2 separate regions of the Homo sapiens genome follow, and region 1 is reported to be linked to region 2. Evidence: microRNA targets listed by miRTarBase, many of them from high-throughput screens and not tested one by one. Region 2 holds a microRNA gene; the other region holds the end of a gene's coding sequence.

The links. Region 2 holds the annotated microRNA hsa-miR-4304 (CCGGCAUGUCCAGGGCA, at 4,404-4,420, shown strand). A microRNA usually pairs through its seed, bases 2 to 8, with sites in the 3' UTR of a target mRNA and lowers its output. Matches are read on the target gene's strand: a 7mer-m8 pairs with bases 2 to 8, a 7mer-A1 pairs with bases 2 to 7 and ends in A, and an 8mer does both.
Region 1: the mRNA of AMZ1 is a reported target of hsa-miR-4304. Seed matches in the 3' UTR shown: 7mer-A1 at 4,375-4,381 and 7mer-A1 at 6,162-6,168.

What each region holds. Positions count from the first base shown.
Region 1 is chr7:2,712,072-2,719,407 of GRCh38, forward strand. AMZ1 (archaelysin family metallopeptidase 1) reads left to right here. Exons shown (of 7, transcript NM_001384743.1): 7 at 259-7,336. The coding sequence ends at 807. Among named protein-coding and RNA genes, the nearest start is that of AMZ1, 28 kb to the left of the region's middle. RefSeq lists a silencer at 1,071-1,270 and an enhancer at 3,506-3,555.
Region 2 is chr12:123,007,786-123,015,121 of GRCh38, reverse strand. It overlaps MIR4304 (microRNA 4304), which reads left to right and starts at 4,394; the gene lies at 4,394-4,455. It overlaps PITPNM2 (phosphatidylinositol transfer protein membrane associated 2), which reads left to right. Exons shown (of 26, transcript NM_020845.3): 4 at 1,080-1,294; 5 at 2,388-2,509; 6 at 5,045-5,272. RefSeq lists an enhancer at 2,640-3,560.

The sequences.
Region 1 (7,336 bases), not on the chromosome of region 2:
TCTAACTTTGGATGACAAGGAGCTTGCGAAGTTCCTGAATGGTGAGCTCTTGGGGGTGGGTACCTCTGACTCTGGCACAGCCTGGACATGAGTCCTCAAAGGGTGCTGGTCACAAGAGCCCTCACACCACCAGCCTGACTCCCGCCCCTGGGTAACTGAGGACGGTGGGGTCCCCTTAGGTAAGGAGGTCTCCTGGCAGTTCCCTGGCTAGACAAGGGCTGGCACGGAGCAAACTCAGCCTGTGTTTCTCCCTCTTAGAGACTCTACACCTGGACTCAGGCGGTGGTGGGGACGTGGCCCAGCCAGGAGGCGGGGGAGCCGTCAGTGTGGGAGGACACCCCGCCTGCCAGCGCCGACTCGGGCATGTGCTGTGAGAGTGACTCGGAGCCCGGCACCAGTGTGTCGGAGCCCCTCACCCCTGATGCCGGGAGTCACACCTTCGCCTCGGGGCCAGAGGAAGGGCTGAGCTACCTGGCAGCCTCAGAGGCTCCGCTGCCACCTGGGGGCCCTGCGGAGGCCATCAAGGAGCATGAACGGTGGCTGGCCATGTGCATCCAGGCCCTGCAGCGGGAAGTGGCAGAGGAGGACCTGGTGCAGGTGGACAGAGCCGTGGACGCCCTCGACCGCTGGGAGATGTTCACGGGCCAGCTCCCGGCCACCAGGCAGGACCCACCCAGCAGCAGGGACAGCGTGGGGCTGCGCAAGGTGCTGGGGGACAAGTTCTCCTCCCTGAGGAGGAAGCTGAGTGCCCGAAAACTCGCCAGAGCAGAGTCGGCCCCCCGTCCCTGGGATGGGGAAGAGAGTTAGTACAGCAGGGGCTGCCCTACGTCTCCTTCCCTAAGGATGCTGGCCAGCACTGTCCAGTAGCTGAGGCCACTACTGACCTGCCAGGGATAAAGAGGAAGGGTCTGCCTGGGTGGTGGCTCAGGCCTGTCATCCCATCACTTTGAGAGGCCAGGAGTTTGAGACCAGACTGGGCAACATGGTGAGACTCTGCCTCTACAAAAGAAAAATTAAAAAATTAGCTGGATGAAGTGGTTCATGCCTGTGTTCCCAGCTATTCAGGAGGCTGAGGTGGGAGGATTGCTTGAGCCTAGGAGGTCGAGGCTGCAGTGGGATGTGATCATACCACTGTACTGCAGTCTGGGCCACACAGAAAGACTGTCTCCAGAAAAAAAAAAGTTCTTTGGAGAAGCCACAGACCACCTGTCTTCAGGCGCCTCCTTCAACTCCTGAGTCCCAGCCAGCCGCTCCCAGGGGCCTGCACACATGGAGAGGCCTCCCTGATCCTGGGTGCTTCTCGTGGAGTACAAGCCGGACTGTGCTGAGGTTGGGACAGAGCCCCCTCCCCTGCAGAGGCAGAAGGAAGCAGCGTGCGTCCTGTCTCCTTCCAGGCTGTGGGCCTGCCCTTCAGTTATTTATAGCTGGAGCTGGAGAGGCTGGCTCAGATGAGGAGTGACCCCGGGGGCACACAGGCTCCACACTGCCACCCAGCTTCCAAGGCTGAGTCTCCTCCCTAACGGGGAAGTGACGGGGTTTTGTCTCTATCATCTCAGGCGTCAACCACATGCACACACACACTGTCACGTTCTGTGGCGCTAACAGCATCCTGATCCTGACGGACTTCACCGGGGCTCTCCAGGCATCTCTTCTGACAAACACTGCAGGAGGTGAGGGTGTCTGACGTGCACTGAGGGCAGAGGCCCCCTTATTCCTGAGGCGGCTACAGCTCACCGTGGGGAAGATCAACTGTGGTGATGTTTTTGGGACAGTTTCTTGGCAAAGGTGGCCGCGCTGTCAGTACCAAGTAGCTGGAGGTGGTGATCAGATGATCTGTCTTTCCTTTTTTTTTCGGTCTAGTTCTGTCAGTTGCTGAGAGAGGGGTATTATTGCCATGGCTGGGCGTTTGATCTGTCTCCCTTTAGTTTTGCCGGATTTTGCTTCCTGCACTTTGAAGCTCCTTTACGTCCCTGCACATTTGATTGTTGTGTCTTCCTGAGGAATTGACCCTTTTATTGTCACACGTACCCCCTCAGCCTGTGGTGGAGGGTCTCTGGGAGAGAGACTTCCGGTTCTGACAGCGGAATCCCTTCGGAGTGACGAGGGCGGGGTCACAGCTCGCGCACCCTCATCTGGAGAGAGGCAAGAACAGGGCAGCTTGGACCTTTTGTGGGTGGGTGGCTCACACGGTTATGGAGGGCTTCTAAGAAAAACAAAATACAAAACTAAAACTAGAAGGGCTATGCAGGTGAGGTGGGCTGAGGCTTCCTTGTGAATCTGACATTGGTGGAGGCCGACTGAAGGCTCCCGGTCCTGGTCCCACTCCGTGTTGACTTCAGAGAAGCAAAGATGCAGCTCAGAAGTAGCATTAGGATCTTCGTCCCGTTCTCTTTTGCGTAGCTTCAAAAAGGCGTAACAGTGACCTGGGAGGGGAGATGAAGAGCTAGGCCTTTCAGAAAGTGACCAATGGAAGGTGCCGGCAGAGCACCCTGCAGTAACAGAAGGTGAAAGCCGGAGCCTGGTGGCTGTTGCTGCAAACAACCACCCAAAACTTAGTGGCTTAAAATCACCACAGTCTAGCTCATGAATCTGTAACTTGGGCAGAGCTCGGTGGAGACGGTTTGCCCCTGTGGCTCGACTGGAGTGTTCGTTCACACGGCTGCCAAGTGGAATTTGGCTGGGAATCTCAGGCCTTGGTTCCTGCCCACGTGAGACTCTCCATGGAGGAGGGGCATCTTCTTAGGAAGGCAGCTGCCATACCGTGAGGAAACCCGACAAACAGGGCAGCCAGAGCCAGACAGCAGGCTCCTGGTCCCAGTCCCGGAAAATGCAAAGGGACAAGTATGTGTTGATTTCAGAGAAGCTCAGATGTAGCATTAGGACCTTCATCCATACCCTTCTCTTTTGCATGGCTTCTAAAGGGCATGACAGTGACCTGGGAGGTAACTGTGCCAGAATAAAGAGGGGAGACGAAAAAAAGAGGGTCACTTTCAGAAAGGGACCTGGGCTTCCTCACAATATGGCGGTTGCCCTCCTAAGGTGGACATCGGGAGGGTCAGATGGAAGCTCTGTGGCCTTTCCTAACTCGGCCTCACGTCACAGAGCGTCACCTTTCCTGCACTCCACGGCGGCAGTGACAAGGACCCCACCCCAGGTTCACGGGGAGGGGACGTGGCAGGGAATGTGAGACAACACAATATTGCTGTGGCCATTCATGAACAGTCAGTCAGCCCCACTCGGCGTTCACTGTGGGGATTTGGCTGGTGCACCTGCGAGGTGGCCTGACCTGTTTTCCGATTTCCTTCATCTTCTGCAAAAGGTTAACCGCTGGAGTGATGCGAGATTAAACAGAGGTGATAAAAATAGAATGCCTGGCTCATGCTGAGGGTGGGAGCCCACTGGGGTTATGACCAAAGCCTCGGCGCTCTCTGTACCCGTGTCCTTTGACCCTCAGCTGTGATGTGTGTCCCAAAAAAGCGTTTTGAAGTGGGAAGGAGCAAACCACTAAAAAAAACTCCTTTTATCCGCAGCGTTTACCAACTTGCAGATGTCAGTGAAATTTTTTAAGACAGCTGTTAGAAGGACTGTTTTGAAATGCAACTTTGAGGAAGAGAAATTGGTTTCCCTCCTCTCCCCCGTGTTAGCCCCAGGTTCTGTCTGTGCTGTGGTGAAGAGTGACTTGGGACAGTCACCAGGAAAGACGCAAGGCAGAGGAGAGAGAATGAGGGCTGCCTTCTCGAGGAAGGTCACAGCTCACGAATCTTTCTAAACTTAAGTGCTGCAGAAGTTGAACTGAGATTAAATTTAGAGATGATGGTTTCCAAGACACACAGGGCCACGGTTCTTTCAGTTTTTAAACACGTGCAAAGTCCACTGAATTGCTTTCTCGTCTCATCTGTCAGAAGCCCCTGCATTCACAAGGATGGGTCTTCCAGCTTGACGATGACCTCTCTTCGGAGAGCCTCACCCATCTTGGTAAGCCAAGTCAGCGGGGCCTCATGGAGCTAAAAATAGTTTCAGGTCATGACAGATGTTATCTGTATTGCTGTGTGTGCGATGAGTCTGGGGAAGCTAACACATGCCTTCTGAAGTGGCTAGAATACACACTCCCACGTCACAGCCATGCTATGATGAAGGGGTGAGAAGCAGTGTCCCCTCTGAGGCAAATCTCTCTTCAGGCAGCCCCGCAGTCCTCTTCCGAAATCTCATTCTTTTCCCTCTCTTCCTCCCCAAAAAGCCCAAACTCATTGTCAGAGTGGGGAGAGGGGAGAAGCAGCATCCTGACTCCTGTCCATGGTGTGAACCCTGAGGGCACGGGACAGTGAGTGGAGCTCTGCCACCACCCGTTTCCAGAGCATGGGTGAGGAGGGAGGGATGCCGACCTGTTAATATTTGCTTCAGACCTTTCCCCGATGAACGAAATCTCCAAAAGCCTTAAACATAAAATGGCTTAGTCAAGCACGAGTGATAAAGCTGGGAGTCCAAATTTAGATCCCACCAAGTTCAAAGGGGGAGGCTAGAACATTCCAGGGACACACCTACACGCAGAGGGTCTCCATACAGTGCCAAGGGAGCTGCTCTGCAGACCCACCAGGCAGGGACGGCCAGGCCTCGGAGAGAGGGACCGGCTGCCCTGCCCAAGGCCCACCTGGACAGGCAAGTCTTCCCTAGTGGGTCAGTCAACTCCACCGCTTAAGGGGTCCTTCCTATGTAACGGAATTTTTTTACATCATCATCGAGTCTCGAAATGACCTGTAAGGCAGATGGCTGCATCCCCACCATATGGCTGTGGCTGTCGAGATGGGACTGGGAAGGGCTGGAGCCTCAGAAACGGCAGAGCGGAAGTTGAGGCGCAGTCTGTTCTTGCTTGAACCCCGAGTTCTCCCGCTGTTGTGCAGCTTTCTAAAAGCAAGCTGGAGCGGTCTGAGCAGGAAGAGAGTAAGAAGGCGCACGGACGCGGGAGGCCTGCACCCTGATCCCTGAGCAGCCCCCACACACCGGCACCCACGCCCCTCGGTTCTGATAACCAGGAGGCTTTCTGGCCCGTGCAGCTCCTTCGGACTCTGAGGAGAGGCCTGGGTGGGTGGCCGGCACTCTTAGGTGAGGTGCCAACGAAAACACCCCCGTGATTGCTGGGGCTTCACTGATTTGTTTTGTTTATAAAAGGAGGGCGAGGCCTGCACAGGAATATTTTTATCCCCGTGAAGACGGAGAGAATCAGGGCTTCGCGACGGGGCTCATAGACCTGAACTGGGTCTGCCTGCCTGTGTGCTGGAAGCAAACGACGGCCCGTCCTCTAAGCTGGCTTTGCAGCTCCAGTAAGAGTGAGAGACTCACGGGGGCCTGGCTGCCGTCCTGGGAGAGGCCCCGGGAACCGGCTCGCCCTGTACCCAAGGGCTCTCTGGAGCTCACCCCGCACGCAGGCTGCTCCAGAGCTGAAATCTAGCTGTGATCCCTGTGGGGCAACTGCACACAGAGGTGCCCAGTTTCAAGGAAACCTAAAGCAGCAGCAAATTTATGGCTCTTGGAACACGAGGCTGTCAAAGATAAACACCGCAGGGTAATCTAGGAAACACTTCCGGCTTGACTGTAAAGAGCCCTGGCCTGCGAACGCTGTTAAAAACAGATGCAGATCGCGGGTGGAGACGGCCGGCCGAGCCTTCCCTTTTCTGACATCCTACAGCAGCACCTTGATGAATGAGAACCCGGAAGAATGGAGGTTTATTTTTGAACTCAGCTTCTTGGGTAGGGAGGCAAATGAAAACAGGCTGATGTCAGGGGTTTATTTTAAAAAGCAATTTCCAAGAAGCGTCCTGGGGTCACCACGCGTTCAGTCCAACTCTTCCCCGCTGCAGTGTTCCCGTGACGATGAGGCAAATCCAAATAGTCACCGGAGTCGAGCAAACACGGCGGCCCCTGCCTCCCCCGGCGGCTCCACAATGGCCCTCAGAGGGTCCGCGGCAGCCAGGCCCGTCCAACCTCCTGCCCTCTCTGAGAGGGGCCCGAGCTCTCGCAAGATTAACCAGAGACGACACCTACCAGATTCCACCACTGAGGCCTCCCTCGATGCCTGCTCCCTGGGCTTTTTAATGAACGCACTTCTGTCACATGGAAACTGAGCCCGGCATGGAGTCACGTGGCTCCACCCTGGGGCTCCTCTGATGCCGAGAGCTCTGGCTCTCCTGACTGTGGGCCCAGTGTCCATTTTCTCTCTCAGGCAGGGTGCTCTGCCCGCCACAGTGTGCCTGGTTTTCTGGATACAGCATGACTGAACCGCCCCTTCTCAGCAAAGGCCAACACGTCTTTCTCGAGTCCAAGACCATCTCCCGTTCAAGGGCCCTCACCGCGCTTTGTGAGTCTGTCTCGTGGGCCTCCTTCAGTGGTCTGTGACCAGCGGGAATGAATGGGGACGTGTTTTGTTCAGCCCTGACTCTTGGACGCTGGTGGCAGCCGCGGGCGCCCACTCACCTGGCACGTGGACGAAGGTGATGAGCGCGGCTGACGGCTCCCGGGGGCAGTGTGGGGTCCAGTCTGAAGCCGACGCCCCTCTCGGTCAGGCTTTCAGCAGCAGAAGGCAGTGGACTCTTCACCATTTCTTCCAACACTTTCTCACGTAGGAGCTCCACTGTCCCTTCTAACAGGACAGGGCTTGTGCAGCCGGGCTTGGTCTTGTGGTCAGGGAGAAGCGGGCAGGCCAGGGCCGAGCTGCGTCCGGCTCTCAGGGACTTCCTCTCCCTGTGCTCTGCCCACCTGGGGTAGGCCTCTGGGAACAGGGGAGTCACAGAAACCACGGGAAACGGAGTGGGTTGGAAGAGGCAGAGAACACGCTTTTCTCAGGGTCGCTTAACACAGGCAGGGGTACAGGAGAGCTCCGGCCATTTATTCCAAATGTATGAGCAGGAAGGAAAGAGGGAGGGAAGCTGCAAGAACAGGCGACTTTTTTTTTTTTTTTTCCCCCCCATCTGAAGTGAGATCAAACTTCTACCACATTCTACCTGTGCCCTTCTGGGTGGGTGGTGGCCGTCCTCTTGGGCGCCCCCTTGTGAGGGCTCGAGGCCTTTACTGGATGGGCAGGATGCGGGCAGCAGCTTTGTCGGCTGCCAACCCAACTCCTCCGACAGAACGGCAGGTGGCCCCTGTCGGAAGGGGGGTGTCTCTTTATTCCTGCCATCCTCCGGCCGCCTCTCCCGCCTGCACCACTTGGAGGCAGTTGTTTCACGTGGGGCTCTTGATGGCATAACCTGATGTCTGTCACGGACCCCCAAGCAGGAGCAATGCCTAAAGAGGGCAAAGGCCCGCGCGCCTGGCAGAGCTCCCTCCTCTGCTCCAACAGCAG
Region 2 (7,336 bases):
AGGTTGTTTGGGGCAGTGTCGCCATCTTAACAATATTAAATCTTCCAATCCATCAACACGGGATGTCTTTCCATTTATTTAGAACTTTAATTTCTTTCAGCAACATTTTGTAGTTTTAAGTGCACAGGTCTTTCACCTCTTTGGTTAAATATATTCCTAGGTATTTATTCTTTCAGAGGCTATTATAAATGGAATTGTTTCTTAATTTTCTTTGACATTGTTCATTTCTATGTGTCATTTTGTATTCTGCAACTTTGTTGAATTTATTTATTAGGTCTAACAGGCTTTGGTGGAGATTGTTTAGCATTTTCCATATATAAGATTATGGCATCAGGAAATCGAAATAGTTTTACTTCTATCTTTCCAATTTGGATGCCTCTTATTCTTTTTGTTTGTTTTGTTTTGTTTTGTTTGTTTTTTGAGACAGAGTCTCACTTTGTCACCAAGGCTGGAGTGCAGAGGCGTGATCTCAGCTCACTGCAACCTCTGCCTCCCGGGTTCAAGCGATTCTCCTGTTTCAGCCTTTGAGTACCTGGGGCTACAGGCATGTGCCACATGCCTGGCTAATTTTTCTATTTTTAGTAGAGACAAGGTTTCACCATGTTGCCCAGGCTGGTCTCAAACTCCTGACCTCAAGTGATCTGCCCACCTCAGCCTCCTGAAGTGCTGGGATTATAGGCGTGACCCAATGTGCCCAGTTGCCTCTTATTATTTCCTTTTCTTGTCTAATTGCTTTAGCTAGAACTTATAGCACAATATTGAGGAAAAGCAAATAAGTGGGCATCCTTGTCTTGTTCCTGATCTTGGGAACGCTTTTAGTCCTGGGACAGGTGGGAGTCAGAATATAGGACTTGTGTGTGCAGCACTAGGTCTGGGAGAGGGAGTCTGTGGCCCCTTCAGCCTCTTGCACAAGCCCTGGCATATAGATTTGGGGGCCTGGAAGTGACACAGGAGGAGCCAGCCTCGTTGACCAAAGCCCCTCCTCCCTTTCCACACCCCTGGGCCCAGTCTCCTGTGCCCCTTCCCTCCTGAAGAGTGCTCTGGCCCCACACACATTGCAGGTGCTTTTGTCCCCACAGAAGAAGAGCCGTAACGAGACATATGGCGAAGGCAGCGGCGTGGAGATCCTGGAGAACCGGCCGTACACAGATGGCCCAGGCGGCTCTGGGCAGTACACACACAAGGTGTATCATGTGGGCATGCACATTCCCAGCTGGTTCCGCTCCATCCTGCCCAAGGCAGCCCTGCGGGTGGTGGAGGAGTCTTGGAATGCCTACCCCTACACCCGAACCAGGTGCGCCTGCTTTGGCCTCCATGTGCCTCCCACCTCCACATGCCATCTGGCGGGAAGCAATCTTGTGGCATAGATCCAGGGGATGGGATCAGCCTTCAAGCAGGTTCAACAACCCATAACCCCAGGGAACCCAGGCTTTGTTCCATACAGGTGCCCCGAAGGTCACCTAGGGCAGGCACAGGCAAGAGAGGGAAGGATATACCCCTAGATGCCTCCTGACTGCCTACGTGTGGAGGCCATGAAGGCGTGAGTCAAGCGAGGGCTGTTGGAGACTCCTTTGCCATTCCAGAAGATGCAGGGAATGTAAACCCACTTCAGGCTCCCTAAGAAGGCTGAGACAGCCTTCTGGAAAGAAACTGAGGGTAGAACAGATGACCCAGAAGTCCCTTCCAACTCTGAGACCTTCAGCTGCTGTGACAGTGTTGTCCCACATCCCATGCTGAGCAGGGCTGTCCTTGGGATTCCCTGGCAGAGGGTTCTTCACTCTGTGCCCTGCAGTGTGTAGCTTATCACTGCTGAGTTGAATAGATGGGAGCTGGTCCCACAAGCTGTCTACTGCTGAGCAGGTGGGGTCCCCACAAATCTCCTGGGGCTCCCTTCCCCACGCTGGTGGGCACCTGGAGCTTGCTGAGGGATCCACGGAGCTTTTTCCTCTTCCCAGTAGTACTTTCCCCTCTAAGCTCATCTCCAGCCTAGAGAGAGGCTATTCCCCCATTGTCAGAGCTGGCTTCTTGGGAACTAGAGGTGGCATGCCCCATGGAGCACCCCAGCTTCCTCCTGCTTGGCAGTATGCTGCCATAGCTGTGCCCGTGTTCCTGCCATGCTGTGGACATTGGACATGGGGCTTCTAGAAGCCACTGAGGATACACTGTCTTCTGCTCCCCCTAAATCCTTCCCTGCCCCCATCCTGGCTGTTCTTGGGACAAAGTGGCGATCCAAGAGGTGGACAGGGCAGGCAAGTCTCGGCTACCCTCCACCCTCCTTCCATGCCCGCTCACCAGCTCCACTCCTACCCAGTGGGTCAACAGGCCCTGGCCAGGACACTGGGCCTCTCCAAGGACAGGTCCTGATGAGTGCTTTCCTTTCCGCACAGGTTCACCTGTCCTTTCGTGGAGAAATTCTCCATCGACATTGAAACCTTTTATAAAACTGATGCTGGAGAAAACCCCGACGTGTTCAACCTCTCTCCTGTGGAAAAGAACCAGCTGACAATCGGTAACCAGGAAGGGCAGAGCCCCACAGGGCTGTACTCTGGGTTTCCTACCCACAGGTCCCTCTTGTCCTGCCCCTTTTCCCCACACCTGGTAGACTCCAGACCTGGCCCTGTCCTGGGCAGGCAGGTCAGAGTTGGAGCAAGCATGGGGCCCATGGGGGAGGCAGGGCAGGCCTTCTCAGCCCCATTCTCCTGATATATACACCAAGTCCAAGTGCCTTTTCCACCCAGAGCTGCTTCCCTCCATCCCTTTGCGGGATCCCTACTCCCCAGAAGTACATATGGGCTCGGGCATCCATCTCTAGCTGACAGCCATGCACAAGTGCCCCCGGCACATAATGGGGTCTATGTCCTCTTGATGGTGGGTGCCCTACCCACTACCTCCAGATGACAGTGACATGTAGGGGATGGGCCCCATTTGTTAAATCTTCATTTTCAAGAGAAGCCAGTGATAAGGATGTTCATGAGAAATCTCCCAATACTAAATGTTAGCAACCAATTAAAAATCTTTGTAAATAAATGTATGCCAGTGAAACAAAACACATATGTGGGCCAGTGCAGCTCAGCAGCCACCCTCCTGCAGCCTCTGGGTACAAGGCCCAAGTCACTGTGGAGGCATCTCAGGCAGGGCATGCGGGTTGGGGGTGGGTGTCCATGGCCCAGGAGCTGCTCCAGGCCCAACCCCCCCACCTCTGCTGGGATTTCCTGGGTCTGCGAAACAAAGCGTCATAGCATGAGTGGCTTGCACAACACACAGTTATTCTCTCGGGGCTCTGGAGGCCAGAAGTCTGAGATCACAGCATGGTGGGTTCTTCCCCCTGGGGAAGACTCTGTTCAGGCCCCTTCAGTGTCTGCTTGCCGGCAGTCCTTGGTGCTCCTTGACTTGTAGAAGCATCCCTCCAATCTCTGCCTCGTTCGTCACATGGTCACTCCCCTCTGTGTCTGTCTACCTCTTTGTCTCCTCTTCTTATAAAAACACCAGTCATACTGGGTTAGGACCCACCTTAATGGCCTTACTTTTAACTTGATTACCTCTTTGAAAACCTTATCTCTAGATAAGATCACATTCTGAGGCACTGTGTTCAGTACGTCAGCGTAGGAATTGGGGTTGGGGTGTACATAGCTCTTCCCATAGCAGGCAGCCCTGACACTGCCAGAGCTCTGCAGGCTCCCTCTGAGGCCAGCTGCCATGGGTCCTAAGTCTCTGTGACATTTCCCATGCAGGGTCTTTGCCGGCTCACATGGGCAGGGCATATGGTCTGCTCCAGGAAGAGTGCTCATCCCTCCTGGCATTCTGTGGTCCTCAGACTTGCTCCTGACCCTGCTGATTTTGGTGGAGCTGATGTCTGTGTCTGCAGTCTGCAGCCTGGATACAGAGGGGCCCACACATTGGAGAAAATGAGGCAGCCAAGGGCCTGGCTAGAGCAGAACCGACCGCAAAAAAGGGTTCTGTGAGCCACAAACCCTTTACTGGGGCTCTTTCTCACCCAGTGAGTGCCCCAGTCCTGCCCAACACACATGTGCCTCGGGAGTGAGCACACAGGAGGGCTCTGAGATGCTGCTGTGGAGGGGAAGCCTGTGATCATAAGTGGCCTGGCCTACGTCCTGCCCAGAGCCATCACCCATCTTCTTGTCACCCTCACCAGGTCCTGTCAGCCCCTAAGCCTGTTTTCTGCACTCCTACCTCTGTGGCATCTGCCCCTGCTCTCAGGCCTAGCCTGGAGCAAGCTTGGCCAGACACCCCCTGTAGGCCTCTTCAGACATCTCTTCCGGTCTCTGTCCAGGAAGGCTTTTCCAACAGGCCAGCCTGCCTGCATCCCTCTCAGCCTCAGATCTATACCTGGGTCCACTTGGCTCTCAGGGAACTGTCCGGTCTCCTAGCTTGGAGAGAAGTGGCCGGCATGTCCAGGGCATCCCCATTGCTCTGTGACTGCTGCCATCCTTCTCCTCACGCAGACACCCTGGTGGTTCCTTCCCCAGAACCCCCCACCTCTTGTTCAAGGGCCGGTGCTGCTGGGACATTCTTGACCTCTTGATTCCACCCCTCTGGCTGAAACACCGTCTTTGTGGGAAGCTTTTCCTAGCCTTCTCTTCTGTTCCTCCCACCCTGTATTCTTCATGGAAATTCATCTCCCCAGTGTTTCCTCATTGCCTTATTTATCTGCTTTGCCAAGAGGTAGGGTGCACTCAGAACATGGGTTTTGCTGAAATGACTTGAAAAGGCAACAAGGGGCCAGGCTCGTTGGCTCATACCTGTAATCTCAGCACTTTGAGAGGCTGAGGTGGGAGGAGTGCTTGAGCCTGGGCAACATAGCAAGACCCTTATCTGAATGAATGAATGCACCAAGGAAACTGCAGGCCCCACTGTCAGGGATTTTGAGGTCAGAGCTGCCCAGAACATGATCCTCACTCCCAGGGTCCCTCTGGCAGGGCAAGGCCCAGAGTCCTGGGAGGATTTGGGGGTGGAGGAACATGGAGAGATGTGGGTGGGGGTTGAGGTCAGGGCAGAAGTGGCCACTCTAAGGGTTTACCCACAGACTTCATCGACATTGTCAAAGACCCTGTGCCCCACAACGAGTATAAGACAGAAGAGGACCCCAAGCTGTTCCAGTCAACCAAGACCCAGCGGGGGCCCCTGTCCGAGAACTGGATCGAGGAGTACAAGAAGCAGGTCTTCCCCATCATGTGCGCATACAAGCTCTGCAAGGTGGAGTTCCGCTACTGGGGCATGCAGTCCAAGATCGAGAGGTTCATCCACGACACCGGTGAGCACACCCATGCCAGGTGGGCAGTGGCTGGGCTACCCAACCCCTCTGTCTCCTGTCACCTGCCTGTCTGCCTCCTCTCTTTGCATGTCTGCCTGGGAGTCTGCGTTTCTGTTTTGTTCTGGGAAGGTGACACCAAAGCCCATGTCCAGCTTCCCCACTACCCGCCAGCCATGGGTTATCTTGAACATCCATGAATACTTACTGAGCATCTGCAGAGACAAGCAGTGTGTGTTGTTGGATGAAGAAGCCCTAGGCACTGCCCCCAGACATTCCTGACCTAGTTCGCATTTGATAAAGAGTAGCCCACACTCCACAGGTCTGAGTAGCCCCTGGGGACAGGTTCCCTGCTGCTCATCTGGGCCTCTGGGCTCCCAGGCCTTTGTTTCCTCTACTCAAGGAGGCCCAGAACCCAGGGCCACAGCTCAGCCTCCCTCACTGGGCTGGAAGCTCCCAGGAGCAGGGTGTCTCAGACATCATAGTGGCCTTCACACCCACACCAGCCTAGCCAGAGTAGGTGCCCATGGAACAGGTAGACAGCAGATGGCCTGGGGGTCCTGGTGCAGTGAGTGCCATTTCCTCACCTAGAGCCCTAAACCCCCCTCTGCCGAGGTCATAGCATGATGTCATTCCAAGAGCTGGTTCCGGTCCCTGAGGCCCATGACCCAAAAGGCACCCCAGCCAGACACCTTGTGATGCCATGAGCAAGGGTGACTTTATTTAAGATTGAACAGAGCCACACTGTTGACAGTACATATCACGCTTGTCACGTAAGCTTACGATAACCCATGAGGGTAGGCATTGTCACTCCACTTATGCAGGAGGAAGCAGAGACCCAACACTGGGGCTGAACTAGATCTGCCTCCCATCCCAGCCACCCTTGTCCTGAATTAACATCCTCCTGTTCTTAGCATCAGTAAGGGAGGTGTCTCACTAGACAGCCATGTTCAGTGTTGGGGCTGTGACCCCAAGGGAAGGGTGGATGTGTACCCGAAAGGATTGGGGTCCAAGGACGCGGTCTTCCACTTGGAGAAGCGAAGACGTGGACAGGGCCTCGATGGGTGTGTTGGTGTCACCACCTCCATCCCCAGGGCAGAACACTCAGACACATTGTCCACCATTCTTTTTCCAGAAGGGCTGCTGCGGTGTCAATCAGCAGCTGGGAGAGGTGGCAGGAAGAGAAGGAAGCTGTCCCATCCATTGAGAGGGATGCATTCCCACAATCCATCTCTCTAACCCCATGGGAGCTTAGATTGGCCCAAACCTGCCTCTCTCCATTACCCAGGGCTCACAGACTGGGACCTGCAACCCCAGTGCTGAAGCCTCAAAATGGGAATGGTGGTTCTCACTTCCCAGGCAATATGAGGAGTGGAGGAGCATGTGGGCAGGACTGGGAGGGGCTCCCCTATCCTGGGCAGGGCGTCCCCTACCGCCCTTCTCGACCTCCAGGAACCTGAACACATCAGCGCTGGTGACTCGTCCCACCCTCTCCTCAAGGCTTCTCTAGGTTCAGCCCTGCACAGGACACCCAGCAGACCTACTAAGGCTGCAGCTCCTGGCACTCTGGCTCTGTGGGTCTGCTTGGCTCTCCCTAGCCCTACCCAGCAGCTGAGATCCTGGCCAAGCTGCAGAGACTCCCCAGCTCCCTGAAAGTCAGTTCTCCCCTCAGAAAGCAGGAGCTTGTGGCTGGTGGGAAGAAAGAAGACAACTTTAGAGTCCAGGCCTGACTCACACGTAGTGGCTCTGTGGTCTCTCAGCCTCACTGAGCTTTGCTTTTCTCTTCTGTAAAATGGGTGTAATGACACCGATCCTATCGGACTGTTGTGGGCCGAGACCGTGGGTTCAGAACTGAAGATGGGGTGTGGCACATAGGTGGAGCTTGATGACAACTGTGAGTACTAGTCCTATAATATCACGGGGATGATCTCGTGAACTCATGTGAGCTACGCTGGGCTTCTTGGGGGCCTTGAGGAGGCAACTCCTGGGGGTTGGGACAGCTCTCAGCTGTCCTCATTACTGCCTGGCCCCAGATGTAGTGCATGTCCCAGCCCTTCCGGTCACCCC